2 separate regions of the Homo sapiens genome follow, and region 1 is linked to region 2. A link means that fine-mapping ties the variant in region 2 to the expression of a gene that starts in the linked region. Tissue or cell type: whole blood. Region 2 holds a variant in brackets; the other region holds the start of a gene. All regions are shown on one strand. Distances are from middle to middle.

Evidence for each region. PIP is the estimated chance that this variant, and not a neighbour inherited with it, causes the effect.
Region 1: it holds the start of SLC25A4, and the variant in region 2 is fine-mapped to the expression of SLC25A4 in whole blood (INTERVAL, PIP above 0.99).

Annotation. Positions count from the first base shown.
Region 1 is chr4:185,138,386-185,146,566 of GRCh38, forward strand. SLC25A4 (solute carrier family 25 member 4) reads left to right here and starts at 4,881. Exons shown (of 4, transcript NM_001151.4): 1 at 4,881-5,098; 2 at 6,379-6,865; 3 at 7,374-7,514. The coding sequence starts at 4,988. RefSeq lists a silencer at 4,653-4,952.
Region 2 is chr4:185,110,818-185,118,998 of GRCh38, forward strand. No RefSeq gene overlaps it. Among named protein-coding and RNA genes, the nearest start is that of SLC25A4, 28 kb to the right of the region's middle. RefSeq lists an enhancer at 5,158-5,452. The variant A/G (reference allele first, on the strand shown) is at 4,764.

The DNA of each region.
Region 1 (8,181 bases), 28 kb after region 2:
TATGAGGAAAGGGTCATGAGGTAAAAGAACGCATATGGAAGAAAACCCTTATTCATTAAAATAGCAAAATATTGTTCTTCAGTAGTACAGATGATAAAAAATAGTCTCTGATAACATTTGTTGCCTACTGATTTTAATAATAGAAATAAAGCATGTTTTTAAAAATGATTGATAGGATATGTGAAACACAAAACACTAGTTCAAAATGTGTTTAGAAAATGGACCCAGTCAGCTCCAGGTGAGTAACGGTTTTATTCACAGAGGTTGCCCGTGGGCAAAACTGGAAGATGCCAGCCTGGAAGGTGTGTGGTTATGGTCGGAAGGCATTATTATGCAAGCATAAACATTAGCTTCGTTGTGTTGTATGATACTCAATGTGCTTGTTGGACTCTTCAACAAAGTAAAGAGAGGTGCTAAGATTGGAAGTGGGAAAAGAAAGGTTCTGAATCTGTCTGGGAAGTGCACGGGGTCCGCCTGTGTCTATCAGGGGTGTGCTACGGGGGTCCCCCAGGCCTCCCTGCCTCCAGCAACCAAGAGGCCAACCTGAATCAGTTTCCCCCGGAAGCAGAGTGCCTTCTAGGAGAAGTCCCTCTGTCTTTTCTATGATTCAAGGGCTCCTCTGCCCCCTCAAATCACCTCCTTTAAATAATAAGGCGCCAAATCCTTCTAACAAAACTTTTTGTTTCACGAACATTCATAAAACGTAAAAAGTACAAGTTCCGGTGGAGGCAACACACTGAAAGTCACTCTGCTGGAAGTACAACCAGAACCCCCTCTTGGGTCCTTGTCCTTGCCAGGCTGCGTTGGAATTGCCTGTAGGCACCACAGCTATGTCTGTTCCTGGCATGTAAGCTTCTCCACATAGCCTGGGCAACATAGCAAAACCAGGAGACCACAGCAAAACCTGCAAATTAAAAAATATATATATCCGGGCATGATGGTATGTGCCTGTAGCCTCAGCTACTCAGGAGGCTGAAGCAGGAGGATCCCTTGTGCCTAGGAGTGCATGGTTTCAGTGATCTGTGATTGTGCCACCGTGCTCCAGCCAGGGTGACAAAGCAAGATGCTGTCTCTAAAATAAATAAATAAATAAATGCACATATAAATATCTTGATCCTCTTCGCTTAATGCTGAAACTTACCATGTGAACAAACACTAGTAGTGTGTTCTAATTCCTAATACTTTAAATGTACACTTGCACACAGGCATTATGTTATCACCACCATTAGCACATCCTTTATTGTTTTTCTTTATTCCTTGTCACTCTTACTCTTTAGCAACTTCCATTCTCTATTCCCAGTTTGGTAAGAGACTAAGTCTATAAGAGCTTCCACTAAAATTCCAAAAGGCTAACTTTCCACCCTGCTCTCATTTCTACATGGCCCTGTTCCCACCAGCATCTAAGATCCCATCCACGATTGAAAGTAGAGTTTCTTCTCATCTCCTAGATGCCTTGTCCATTCTCCTGCTGGAAGAAAGCCACTAAGTACTGGGTTGGGCGGGTGGACACATGTTCTGCCGAGCGCCATTCTCTCCCCTGCCTGTGTAAGTGATACCAGGATCTTGTGACCACAGGCAGCTCATGCTCCCGAGGGCATGTAAGGCCTCTCTTTTCTGAGAAAGTCCGTGGAAGCAGAGGACAGTGTATGAGTTTCCATGGAAAACCTCTTGTCAAGGATTCCAGCTATGACTCCTTCTATAGAACAGGATAACTGGAGAGTAGCCAAGGAGAAATATATCTCCCATTTAGAAAATATCCAAAACTCTGATTGGTAAAATTAAGTGTAACAAAGATGATACTACTTCCTGAATTCATATATTAATTAATATTTAATTTAGTTTAAATGTCTATTTAAAATCTTCTGGTGATGTTTAAACAATTGAACAACTTGATAGTAAAAATAAATCCAGACACATAAGCAGATAAAACTTTATTTTTTAAGTGATTGTAGAATCATATATCAGCCTATTTTTAAAAAATGAAGATCAAATAAATATGTCATAGTGTGGATATTTCATAAATTAAAGCTATTATGAGAACTTAATATATGACAAACTAGACTTAGTAATATAAGACAAATAATGGAGAGAAGAAAATATCTACTTAAGAATTAGTATTGGGATACCCAAGCATGATATGGAGAAAAGTGAAATTAGACCCATACCTCCATACAATATAAAACGTAGTGTTAGACATTTTAAAAATAGCTACTCAAAGTAGAAGAAAAAAACTGATATATGTACTAGAGTAAATAGACTGCTATATCTATAAAAGAGATACATTTACATCAGAACATGAAATAGATCATCATCATACCATAGATCTGTTCATAACACTAATAGAATGATATAATAAATATCAAAAGGAAAACAACAAAATGAAAAACATTCAACACATATTTATTGTCCCAAATATATAAAGAATTGTTGTTAATATAAATACTCTGCTTTCACTCCAGCAGTAGTCAAGGAAGATTAAAAGTTTATACAAAAGGGAAACCTTGTCAAACTGTCAAATTAAATTGAATCATATGGAATATATACAGCTTCATAGTAATTAAGTAAATACAAACTAAAACTCATAAATAACTCACAAATAACCAACTCTCTATTTTTTTAAAGCCAGTGTTGGAGAAGAGTGTGAGAGAAAGCCCATCTATATAACTGGTGGGTTGGTATTTCTGAAGAGCAATTTGTCAATATGTAGCAAAAGCTACAAAACTTTAAAAATCTTAAATCTATCCATTCCATTTGGGAAATATATGAGAAGAAAAAACTTAGAGGAGAAAATGAAGTTTGTGTAAGTTTCAATGTAGCAGTATTAGTTTTCCTTCCTTCCTTCCTTCCTTCCTTCCTTCCTTCCTTTCTTTCTTTCTTTCTTTCTTTTTTTTTTTTTGAGTCAGAGTCTTTCTCTGTTGCCCAGGCTGAAGTGCAGTGGAGTGATCTCAGATCACCATGACCTCTGCCTCTCGGGGGTCTCGTGCCTGAGCCTCCTGAGCTGCTGGGATTCCAGGCATGAGCCATCACGCCAGGCTAATTTTTGTATTTTTAGTAGAGATGGGGTTTTGCCATGTTGGCCAGGCTGGTCTCGAACTCCTGACCTAGGTAATCTGCCAGCCTCAGCCTCCCAAAGGTATGAGCCACCACACCCGGCCTATTTTTCATCATAAAAATAAGACACAATTCTAATGCACAATTAAAAGGAAAATGGAGGTATAAAAGCAAGTGCTCTATATTACAGGATGGGATACAGTACACTATTATAATTAAAAAGGTTTACTGTGTGGATTATGCTGATCCATGGAAATCAGTAAGTGAAGTTTTGATAAAGTGGAGCAAGTGACGAATACACTGAACTGTAAGGTCTTTGGAGATGGGCCACGTCTACTTATATTCAATCCACAGGGCTACACCTAGTTCTTGGTACACAGTACATGCTCAGCAAGAGTCTGTTGAATGAACACATACATGGTTTATCTGTTTGTCTCTTCCGAGTTCTTGACTTCTGTCTGCTCTGACCTCTGGCAGCTTTCCACTAGTTTCTAGCTTTCATTCTGCTTACCTGGATTTCGGAACTCTAGCCTGCCCCACTCTTAGATAAACGCATGCCCTCTGTGGCCCTGGAACCTTAGTGACTTCTGCTATACCAAAGTCTCCACGCCCAGGGTGACACGCAGCTGCAGCTCCGTAAACCTCTAACATGATGTCAGCAAATATTAAAAAAAAAAAGTTTATAAAACAATGAATAAACTTTGTTAAAGGTACAAATGAAAATTAGCAAACATGGGAAGATAATTGAGTGAAGAGTTTAAAGTTAAAAACGAATTGCAGTCATTCTAGGGGAAGGAACAGTTGTATTTGAAAACCTGTATGGTTACATGAACTGCCTAAAAAACAAGCTAAGGAAAATTAAAGCTCAGATTTATATATTTTAAGAAATTAATTGCAATTAATTTCCTGGGATTAAATAGCATTTCCTCAACCCCAGCTGTCATTAAAAAGAGGCAAATACAGCCAAGGACTGGATCTCCGGAAGGCTGACAGCACTGACCCTCAAGAAGGCACCGGCTGACAGACAGAACATTCTGCCCTAATATGTGCTGAAATTCCGCTGAGAGCAGAGTGGTACATTGAACCCTTTAGGGGCTTACAAAAGAAGTGTCCTGTGTTTTAGAGTCACAGAGTTTTGCAGAAACAAGTATGAATTCACCTAGTGGCCCCCTGCACCAGGTCTTTCCTGTGGGCACTGAGTGCCAGACACATCAATATGTAATAGCAGAATGAATGACTGAACGAACGATTGAATGAAAAGAAATGAGAGGCAGCAGGTTGTCAGATTCTATGAGGCAATCACAGCATCAGGTGACCTTAGTATCTATTTGAGAGGACTGCCATTTATTCTCGGGAGCGCACGGCTCTAAAGAGGCCCATATCCAGGCAGTGAGCTCTGGTGGGGGGCGCCTTTAGATGCAAGAAGGAGGAAACAGCTCGAAATCCCTGGGCCTGAGCGCGGCCCGTGCAGGCCGGAGGGTCAAGAACTCTCCACCGGCGGCAGCGGCCCGGTGTCTGCCCCGGCTTCGCCCCGGCCTAAGGCTGCCTGTGCTATAAATACGCGGCCCACATGCCGCGGTGACACGGTGTTCCCTGGGCTCGGCGGGACAGATAACATGAATGTGCCCTTTAAACGTCCCAAGTTGCAGGGACAGCCCCCGGCCCAGCCTCGCTCCCGGAAGCGCCTTCGCCCCCGATGCCCTCTGCAGCTGGGAGGAGGGGGCGCCCCGCACCTGCCCAGCCAATGCGCGGCGCGAGCGCCGGCCGCGACCCGCCTCCTCTCGCGAGAGCCCGGCGGGGATATAAGGGGGAGCTGCGGGCCAGGCGGCGGCCCCCTAGCGTCGCGCAGGGTCGGGGACTGCGCGGCGGTGCCAGGCCGGGCGTGGGCGAGAGCACGAACGGGCTGCCTGCGGGCTGAGAGCGTCGAGCTGTCACCATGGGTGATCACGCTTGGAGCTTCCTAAAGGACTTCCTGGCCGGGGGCGTCGCCGCTGCCGTCTCCAAGACCGCGGTCGCCCCCATCGAGAGGGTCAAACTGCTGCTGCAGGTGAGGACCGCGCGGTGCAAGAGGCGGGCGCGGGCGCGGCGGGCCGGGCGGGGCGCGCGATGCGGCGCGAGCTGCAGGGCGCGGGGCGCCGCGGAAAATCTGCGCCAGGCCACAGGCCCGGGCGCCCGCCCGCCCGCCCGCCCGCCCGCGGGGGAAGAAGGTGCCCTCTGCGTAGAGACAGGTCCAGCGTCAGTCGCAGATTCCTGGTGTCGGGTGGCGCCCGGCGTTCGGGTGTCTATATATGGAAACCCACCCGGAGCCGGTTTACGTGTGCCAGATCCTGCGCCCGTGACAGCACGGGCGTGCACTCAGGCCCGGAGGCACCTAGTGATTGCCAGTATTTTTGGCACCGTCTTATGCGCACGCACCTTTACAATAAAAACATCAAAATAATCATCACCCAAGAATTCCCTTATCGTATCTCATGCACAATGCTGTATGTAGGCTGACGCCTTCATCTTTATGTAACCTCTGTGAGAGAGTTATTCTTCTCCATTTTACAGATGAAGCTGAGGTTTTGAAATATTAAGAAACAATTTTCGGAATAAACTCAGATCATCCTGTCTCCAAATCTTTTCCTCCCCTACCTGGTCGCTGAATGGTTTATCATCCTCTCGTGTTTTCCTCCACCTGCCCAAAAGGTCAGGGCCCCTCAATGAGGAAGAGCCCAATTTGGGAGTCAGAATTACTAACAACAAAACCCCCACAAATTGCTCACAACGGCAGCAAACCCTTAATAATTGATTACTTGGATTATCTGCTTGAAAACTTTGGAGGCCTAATGTTTAGTGGATTTATTCTCCTTCCTCTATTAGAGCATCTAGTAGAGATCCTCATCTCCAGGGTGATCAGAGTGACACTGAGAAATTGTCATTTTTTGGCCATCATGTCTATTAAATCCAAAGCCCTTTGAAGCAGGGAGTGTTACTCATTTCTGTCCCCCAGTAAGCCCCTCATACAGTTCTCAAACCTAGGGAAAGTGAAATAAATAAATGGCTATAGCTTTATATAATTCAATCACCTTTTCAGTTTATTTGGGGCAATACCTTTTCCCTCAAATACCCTAATAATTGAAGCAACATTGGATTATTTTGGCTTGTTATCCAGTAACTAACATGGATAACAGTATCCATTTACACGTCCTCAGTATCCATTTGATTTCCTCATCCTTTTTTTCTTCAAAAAAAAAATCTAGGAAGTGCAAACCTTTTTTTTTCTCCTGTCCTCTTCCCTTCTCTCTACCCTGCCTGTCCTCTGTCACCCACCCTCCCCTCCACCAGGTCCAGCATGCCAGCAAACAGATCAGTGCTGAGAAGCAGTACAAAGGGATCATTGATTGTGTGGTGAGAATCCCTAAGGAGCAGGGCTTCCTCTCCTTCTGGAGGGGTAACCTGGCCAACGTGATCCGTTACTTCCCCACCCAAGCTCTCAACTTCGCCTTCAAGGACAAGTACAAGCAGCTCTTCTTAGGGGGTGTGGATCGGCATAAGCAGTTCTGGCGCTACTTTGCTGGTAACCTGGCGTCCGGTGGGGCCGCTGGGGCCACCTCCCTTTGCTTTGTCTACCCGCTGGACTTTGCTAGGACCAGGTTGGCTGCTGATGTGGGCAAGGGCGCCGCCCAGCGTGAGTTCCATGGTCTGGGCGACTGTATCATCAAGATCTTCAAGTCTGATGGCCTGAGGGGGCTCTACCAGGGTTTCAACGTCTCTGTCCAAGGCATCATTATCTATAGAGCTGCCTACTTCGGAGTCTATGATACTGCCAAGGGTGAGAGAGGGGCATCGGGGAGAAGGAGGGTGGTGTGGAAAGAGGATCCTATGGGATCTATAACTCACAAAGGACCTGATATATATTGATCTTGTTTTTTCTAGTCTCTGGGATAATTGAGGCTTCTGAATGAGGAGGTGATGTGCATAAGTTAATAGCTGAAGCGTTCCTTGTGTCCTCTACTGAAATAAACTCTGGCCTTTAGTTATTCAGAGAGGAGGAGGGGGGAGCCTGTCTCCCTCTAGACACAGCCATAGCAGTTACTGAGTTTAACTTGAAGCCACTTCCAATGCCCTGTATACAAGCTGAGCACTGCCCCTCCGGGGTCCGGAGAGGGCAGCAGCCACCTTTGCTGTCTGCCTGGTCATATGTGAAGCACCTGCACAGGGGCAGGTTCCCCGCAAGGTCAGAGCATGGAGCTGGAGGTGCAGTGGCCTCTCTCCCTCCACCTGCTTTCTGCTGAGAACAGGCACTTCATAGCCGTTCGGCTTCTGGGCTCTGTCCACAGGGATGCTGCCTGACCCCAAGAACGTGCACATTTTTGTGAGCTGGATGATTGCCCAGAGTGTGACGGCAGTCGCAGGGCTGGTGTCCTACCCCTTTGACACTGTTCGTCGTAGAATGATGATGCAGTCCGGCCGGAAAGGGGGTAAGCTTGTGCTCTACTCATCTAAACTTGTTTGGTTTTGCCCGAGGAGAACATTTTACAGGGCTCCTTTCAGTCTTCCTTACTGGAAATTAATTTTCAAAATTATTTGATAAGGACTTAGGGAAGAAAGATGGTATTAATTCCCCCTAACGTTCTCAACTATCCTATTAGGGAAAAGTATTTTCCATTTTATTAGAGATGATAAGAACATGAATAGTAAGACATTTAGATGTGAATTTAACTAGGTATCCAGCATTATAGAGACCCTAGGCCCTCTTCCCTTAGAGCCTGGGTGCAAAAGCTAGGGAAAAGAAGTAGTTAGCTACTTCTTACAAAGAACTCTTGCTTCCCTCCTAGTTACAGGTGTTAGTGGGATGGGGTGTTTAGCTGGGTAGAGATGGCCTGAAGCAATCTGTTGTGCCAGAGAAAGTTTTGGCTTCTATAGGTTGAACCATACGAAATTGCCACTTTAAAAGTCAAAAACAGTCCAATGTTAGCAGTTTCGTATGTTTCAACGAATAGTTACAGCCTTTTATTTAGACTGCATAACCTCGTGCAGGATCATCTGAGGCTCGGCCTCAGTTCGGTCCTCCATAAAAAAAGGTAACCGCGTAGCATAATACTCCTGCTCCACTGCGCCCTTCTTGTTTCGCAGTTGGGCAGTCCA
Region 2 (8,181 bases):
TGGATCACAAGGTCAGGAGTTCGAGACCAGCCTGACCAACATGGTGAAACCCAATCTCTACTAAAAATACAAAAATTAGCCAGGCATGGTGGCACGTGCCTGTAATCCCAGCTACTCAGGCGGCTGAGACAGGAGAATTGCTTGAACCCGGGAGGCGGAGGTTGCAGTGCGCTGAGATCATGCCACTGCACTCCAGCCTGGGTGACAGAACAAGACTCTGTCCCCCCAAAAAAAAAAAAAAATAGGCAATAGGTTCTACTGTAAGGGGACACGCAGAGAGGAATAAAAGCATGGAGAAGGGGTGAGGAGATCCTGGTGGAGATGAGGAAAGCATTCCTGAGGAAATGAGGGCTAATCTGAGATTTGAAGGATGAGAAGAAGATGTCTTTTTTTTGTTTTTTTCGGCTAGTCAAGTGAAGCAGTGGGAGTGGAGAAGGAACAAAGAAATCCTTAACTGGTTGTGACTGCACTCGGACCACCTGAGAAGAAGATATGAAGACAAAAAGAAGGCACGGACTTTCTGTTCGGAACATGTGCAAAAGTCTAGGCAATATAAAGCACGCTGCTTAAGATGGGGGAATAGGACACCCACATATGCTGAGGCGGTGCCAGGACCAGGATAGCAGAGGGCTCTGGAACCCATGTCAGTGAGCCTGAACATCTTCCTGCGGGTAGGCTCCTTGACATGGGTTCCAGAGCCCTCTGCTACCCTGGAACCCATGTCAATGAGTCTGAACATCAGTAGGAGAGTCACTAGAGAGCCTGAGTGTAGAGTGGACAAGGTTAGATTCAATTTAAGAAGACCTCTCTGGCTTCAATGTGGAGGATGGATTGAAGGGGCTCACTGCTGGTTGAGGCTGTGACAGTGGGCTCGGTGAGACAAGCACGGGCATAGCCTGTTGTTAATAATGTTGTATTTATAGTTTTTGGCTTAAGACTTTTTACTTAATATTTCATATTTAGGGTTTTCCCATTTCATTAAAAATTCATTGTAATCATTTTTAATACCTGCTTGGCATTTCATTGTATGGATAATCCATGATTTATTTAACTACTCTTCTATTTTTAAAGGTTGTTTCTGTTTCTTAGTCTAGAATGAGTAGAATTAATATTTTGGTACAAGGATTCTTGTCCACATTTTATAAATATTTTCATAAATATTAAGATTATACTAATCTCTTGCATCAGATGGCAGAAGAGGTGGCGGCAATGTTACCAAAGGAGTGTGTGTGTGTGTGTGTGTGTGTGTGTGTGTGTGTATAAGCAGTATTGCTTTGTCCTACCTAAATTGCAGATCTGCCAAAGAAGGCATAATCTAATATATTCATCCCCTATGTTGCATGGGGCAGGGAAGGCTGTGGGTTTGCACTACATAGCACATTGTTCTATCCAGGCAAAAGGTCAAGCGCTGTAGAAGGCCAAAGCTAAAAATACAGTGTGGCACTGGGGAAAATGAAGGAGCTGTCCAGGGGAAATGAGTCATACTGAATCAGTACCTCTCCTCCTATACACAGCAGTAACCTCCTCAGCTAGGGAAAGCAGACTGGTTCTTACATGAAAGTGATTTCAGGTCAGGCCTGGTGGCTCATGCCTGTAATCCCAGCACTTTGAGAGGCTAAGGTGGGCAGATCACCTGAGGCCAGGAGTTCGAGACCAGCCTGGCCAGAATGGCAAAACCCCCATCTCTACTAAAAATACAAAAATTAGCCAGGTCTGGTGGCACACATCTGTAATCCTACCTACTCGGGAGGCTGAGGCAGGAGAATCGCTTGAATCTGGAAATTGGAGGTTTCAATGAGCTAACATTGCCACTGCACTGCAGCCTGGGTGACAAAGCCAGACTGTCTCAAAATTTTTTAAAAAAAGGAATTTTAACAATAATACCAATAATTTTGGTAACAACATGGAGTAATTTCATTCCTATAGCACTTTTGTTCCTAGAGGTCGACTGCTCATGGACCATCCGTGGACCAGGATACCCCTTGTCCGTTAGCATAGGGTCTCCGGGAAGACAGCACCACACACGGAAGGAATCGAAGGAGCTGAGCCTCCCTGAACATTTCTCACTGGGACTGGTAGGACTCAGTGGATTAGAAGAATGGCATTCCCAGTCTAGAGGGGCAGGCAGTAACCTGTGTGTGGGCATTGAGAGAATATGGTACATGATCCCTGTCATTGCTGTGACCCTGGAAGTTTCTCAGGAAATCCAAATAACTAATGCCAGTTGGACTGTTTATAAGGTTTCCTCTCTTCAGGAAATCATCAAAATATTCTTTCAGCTGCCAGGCCAACTTCTTCAGGACTGAAAGAAAATCTTTCTTTTCAACCACAGAGAGAGAGCAAACAGCCATTGCTAGTTGACAAAGTTTGGGGAGTGGGAGGTGGTTTTATTTTGTTTTTGTAAACAGGGTCTCCCTATGTCACCCAGGCTCGTCTCAAACACCTGGGCATTTGTGAGAGACCTCCCTTCCATGGTCTTCCCCAGCCCTATTTGTCAGGATTTTTAACACAAGTGACTCCAATTTTGAGTCCGTCAACTTTCACAGATAAAAATTATTAAGACTGATAAGCCCAAGTGTTGACAAGTGTGAGTGGGCTAAATTGTATTCCCTCAACATTCATATGTTGAAGTTCTAGCCCCCAGCACCTCAGAATGTAACTGTATTTGAATATAGAGTCTTTGAAGAGATAATTAAGGCCAGGCATGGTGACTCATGCCTGTAATCCCAGCACTTTGGGAGACTGAAGTAGGAGGATTGCTTGAGGCCAGGAGGTCAAGACCAGCCTGGGCAACATAGTGAGACCTTGTCTCTATAAATAAATACATTTGGATAGAGTTAATTAATGTGAAATAAAATATGGTTATTAGGGAGGGGTTCTAATCTAATCTGACTCGTGTTTTTTAAGAAGAAGAAATTAAGACACAATGCACACAGAAGGAAGACCATGTAAAGACACAAAAAGATGGACACCTGCAAGCCAAGGAGAGAGGCCGCAGAAGAAAACCAACTCCAGTGACACCTTGATCTTTGACTTGCAGCCACCAGAATTGTAGCAAATACATTTCTGCTGTTTAAGCTACCCAGCTAGTGATACTTCGTTTTGACAGCCCTAGCAAACTAATACAGCTAGAGATTTTATTAGTCCATTCTCATACTGCTATAAAGAAATACCTGAGACTGGGTGATTGACAAAGAAAAGAGGTTTAATTGGCTCACAGTTCCACAGGATGTACAGGAAGCGTGGCAGCTTCTGCTCGGCTTCTGGGAAGGCCTCAGGAAACTTACAATCATGGCAGAAGGCAGAGAGGCAGCAAGAGCATCTTACATGGCTGGATCAGGAGGAAGAGCGAGAGGAGGAAGAGGCTGCACACTTTTAAACAACCAAATCTCGTGAGAACTCACTATCGCGACAGCAGTTCCAAGGGGGATGGTACTAAACTGCCCCCATGATCCAATCACCTCCCACCGGGTCCTACCTCCAACATTGGGGATTACAATTTGACATGAGGTTTGGGCAGGGACACAGATCCAAACCATGTCAGAGACATACAATACGGGAATTTTTACACATTGCTGGTAAATAAATGGGCACATTCATTTTGGAGAGACACAAGCCCCAGTAGCCAAAAAATCCATTTGAGTTATCTATTCTAGAGAAAGTCATGCAAATGTGCCCCAAAAGACATACGGAAAGCTGTTCAGTGTAGCATTTTATCTCACTGTGAAAAAAATGAAACTAACCTCCCCTCAGTGGAAAATGGCTAAACTGTGGTTCATTCACACAATGGAATTCCACAAGACTGTTAAAATGACTAAATGTGCCTGCATCTATCAACACGGATAAATCTCAAAACCAACGCTCAGTGAAAAAAGAAAATTGCAAAAATATTTGTACAACGTGATATCATTTATATGTAGTTTTAAAACACAATTGTCTATATTGTTTATGCACATATACATATGTGTAAAAGCACAAATACACACATGAGCATAAGACGCATGTAAGATAATGGTTAAGAGCACAGACTGTGGAGCTCCCTCACCAGTTATATAACATTTGATAACTTTAATCCCGTGCCTCAGTTTCCTCATGTGTAAAATGGTTTTGATAATGAAAGTGCCTACCTTATTGGATCATGGGGAAGATTACATTAGAAAATGCATACAAAATGCTTAACTCAATACCTGGCTCATAGTAAATGTTCAATAAATATTATATTATACTATTGTTTAACAAACATCCACTCCAAAACTCATGGTGAAATTTGTCATTGTGATGGTATTGAGAAGTGGGAACTTTAAGAGGTAGTTAGGTTACTAAAGCTGTTATTGTGGGAATGGGTTCATTATCATGGGAATGGGTTTGCCAGCTCTTACAGTCTCTCTCTTTCTCTCTCTCTCTTTCTCTCACCCTTTCACCCTTCAGCCATGTTATGATGCTGCAAGAAGCCCATTGCCAGATGCTGGTGCCTTGACACTGGACTTCTCAGCCTCCAGAACTGTGAGCCAACAAATGTCTATTTGTTGTAAGAAATCTTACTAGATAAGGGCCGGGCGCGGTGGCTCACGCCTGTAATCCCAGCACTTTGGGAGGCCAAGGCGGGCGGATCACGAGGTCAGGAGATCGAGACCATCCTGGCTAACACGGTGAAACCCCGTCTCTACTAAAAATACAAAAAAATAGCCAGTCGTGGTGGCAGGCGCCTGTAGTCCCAGCTACTCGGGAGGCTGAGGCAGGAGAATGGGGTGAACCCGGGAGGC[A/G]GAGCTTGCAGTGAGCCGAGATCGCACCACTGCACTCCAGCCTGGGCAACAGAGCAAGACTCCGTCTCAAAAAAAAAACAAAAAACAAAACAAAACAAAAAACTTACTAGACAAATATTAGCTTATTAGTAAATAAATAATATGGTCAACTGTACAGGCAATCAAATATGAAAAAAGTAAAATAAAATTGAGTTACTACTTTTGGCAAAGCTTAATTTTGAAATAAGGGTACTTTGATAGGTAATATACTATGATAGGCAGCTTCTAAACGGCCGCAGTGATCCCATCTGTTGGTATTCATGCCCTTCCTTGTGTAATCCCCTTCCCTGGAATATGGGCCGGACGTAGTAACTTGCTCTGACAAATAGAATATGACAAATTGATGGAATATTACTTCCAAAATGAGGTTCTAAAAAGACTGGTGCTTCCTCCTCGGGCACTCTCTCTCATTCTGTTAATCTGAGGGAAGCCAGCTGCTATGCTGTGAGCTGCGCCGTGGAGAGGCCCACATGGCGAAGACCTGATAACATCTGGATGATAGCCAATGAGTGAGCTTGGAAGTAGATCCTCCCCCATGTGAACTGGGAGGTGATTACAGCCCTGGCAAGCAGCTGAACTTGCAGTCTCATGAGAGCTCCGGGCCAGAGACTCCCAGCCCAAATTCCTGACCTCCAGAAACCATGAGAAAATAAACGTTTATTGTTTTAGGCTGGCAAACTTCTAGGTAATTTTTTACGCAGCAATAGATAACCAATACACCCAACATAGGCCAGGGCGAAAGCTAACGCTGATGTGCATATGTACTGTTAGTAATAAGGTAAATTGGTGTAAGTTTCTGGAGAGCGGTTTTAAAAATATTCCTAAAGATAGTCACAATTATGTTTTGCCTGAAGGAAATAAATGAATAAATATTTAAGTATATCCATTAAAGTCTTAAACATAGTAAATATAATAGTGAATAACTGGTAATAATTTACCAGTTTGGGGGAATTGTTAAATTATAATATATCCATTTGATAAAATCTTAGGTGGATATTAAAATTCATGTCAAAAATCTAATTAATGATCTGTTGAAATGTTCATGACATAATGATAACAACATTAACAAAATAATAATAATTGAGGATGATCACAAATTTTGTTTTATTTATATTTAAAAATTTGTTAACCAACATAATAATAGTGTTGATCTGAGTGATGACATTATTAGGTGATTTACATTTTCTTGATTATATTTTTCTATAGGTTCCAATTTGTCTATAATAAATATATGTTTTTTAATCTGAAAAATCCTCAAATGTAAAACAATGGAATGTGGGCCAAGTATAATTCTTAAAATACATTTACTTTTTGCCTCTTTTTTTCTGGATCATGTTTTTCAAGTTCTCTCAAATTCCTAAATTCTTCTCTGAACTTTTCTTTCAGTCACTTCTTTACATCAAGTAGCTCTTCTTGTTCCTCTGTTCTTGGTTTTTTGTTTTGTTTTGTTTTGTTTTTTAGCATGGTCTATAGATAAAACTGAAGAGGGAAAAGACCAAATGTTTACTTACTTTAAAATCATATAAAAATCCCAAAAAGGTAATTTTTTGGCAAGAAGTAGGTTTGACCCTTTGCATAAAGTATTATTTTACTTTGGGAAATAAAGATTTAAATCACTTTGCATATAAATCTAAAATATACCTATGCATATCAGATTTTTTTAACCTGGAGTCCATGAACATCTAGGGGTTCACTTAATTTGAGGTATCCTCAAATTATGGTCTAGCTTTTTATTTCTTCTTTGTAATCCATCAGCCTTTGGTAAGGTCTTTTTGAACCCTCAGCTTTGTCTCAGCTGCGCCTTGGAGTCTCCCAGGAGGGCCCTTAGGCCACAGCTGGGGAAGCCTCCCATGGTGGGTGTGGAGGTAGCCGCAAGGGTCGATGAGAAGCCAAAGCTGAAGTGACTCTCAGGGGAACAGAGGGAGAACTTCTCAGCCTGGCTTCTCTGCCTCACCTGGGAGATTCTCTTTTTAGCGTTCACCTTGAAAATTCTGACTTTGTTTTATTAAGAAAGGTGATTTTTTTATGATGTACACATACTTTATAATGTCAAAGAATAAACATGTGTGGCTTGCCTCATCTGTTTAGTTTTTACCTGAAACCTCTGCATTTTTTGATGATTCATTGTGATCTTCTACTCCCAATTTTTTAAGAGTTGCATCTCTATTGAGAACACCTATTCCGTTCTCACCATACCATTAATGGAAATGATACATGTGGTTTCATATGTAATGTGGTTTAATATGTGTTTTATGACACTGACAAGTTCCTTGTCTAGCGATGGCAAATGTGAGCTATGTGGGCTGCCGATTTCTCCTCCTGGGTGCCTATCAGACAACACTATTCAACACAGCATTCTTCTTGTTGAGCCCAGATTCAGCCTCAGAAGTTTTCCCAAGTTCTACCAAACACTTGGCAATGGTATGCCGTATGAAATATATTTATTTATATATATGTATACAGATATATATACACACACATAATAGATTTGTCTGTTTTATTATGTTAAAAATGAAAAATTCTTTAGAACTCCTTTGTCAGACCATGTGTCCTGAGTTTGGATTTGAAAAAAATATTCTCATTGTATGCACACCACATATACTCTTGCATGCGTAATTATGGTGAAATACATCAACTGCTCATGCTTTGCTCTTAGTAGGAAATTACAGGGACAGGTCCTGGCCCTCTGGGCTGTGTGATTTCACAGGCTGATTCTCTGAGTCAGGCCCAGACAGAATATGTTTGGGCCTGACTTTGTCACCTTTGTAATTTTTGTTTTTTTTGTTTGTTTGTTTTGTTTTTTGAAACAGAGTCTCACTGTGTCACCAAGGCTGGAGTGCAGTGGCACGATCTCAGCTCACTGCAACCTCCGCTTCCTGGGTTTAAGCAATTCTCATGCCTCAGCCTCCCGAGTAGCTGGAATTATAGACATGTGCCACCACGCCTGGCTAATTTTTGTATTTTTGGTAGAGACAGGGTTTCACCATGTTGACCGAGCTGGTCTCACACTCTTGACCTCAGGTGACCTGCCTGCCTCAGCCTCCCAAAGTGCTGGGATTACAGGCGTGAGCCACCACGCCCGGCCTGTTATCCTTGTAATTAATAACTAATGTTCTTAGCTACTTTCCCCTTCCACTGAATCTCCCTCTTTCTTAATCAAGGCTTGGAGAGGTCTTTTTTAAAATTCTAGCCTCAATATCGTTCTTTCATCTACTGAGCTATTCCATGGTATGAGATCCAGGAACCTGTTTTCAATAAAAAGAACAATGGATTGGCTAAAATGTGAAATATGTTTCACTACAGATATATCTGTACTGTATATAGACTCCCATTGGCTTTTTCTTTTGCTAATAAAACATGTTCATTTTGATTGTTAGAA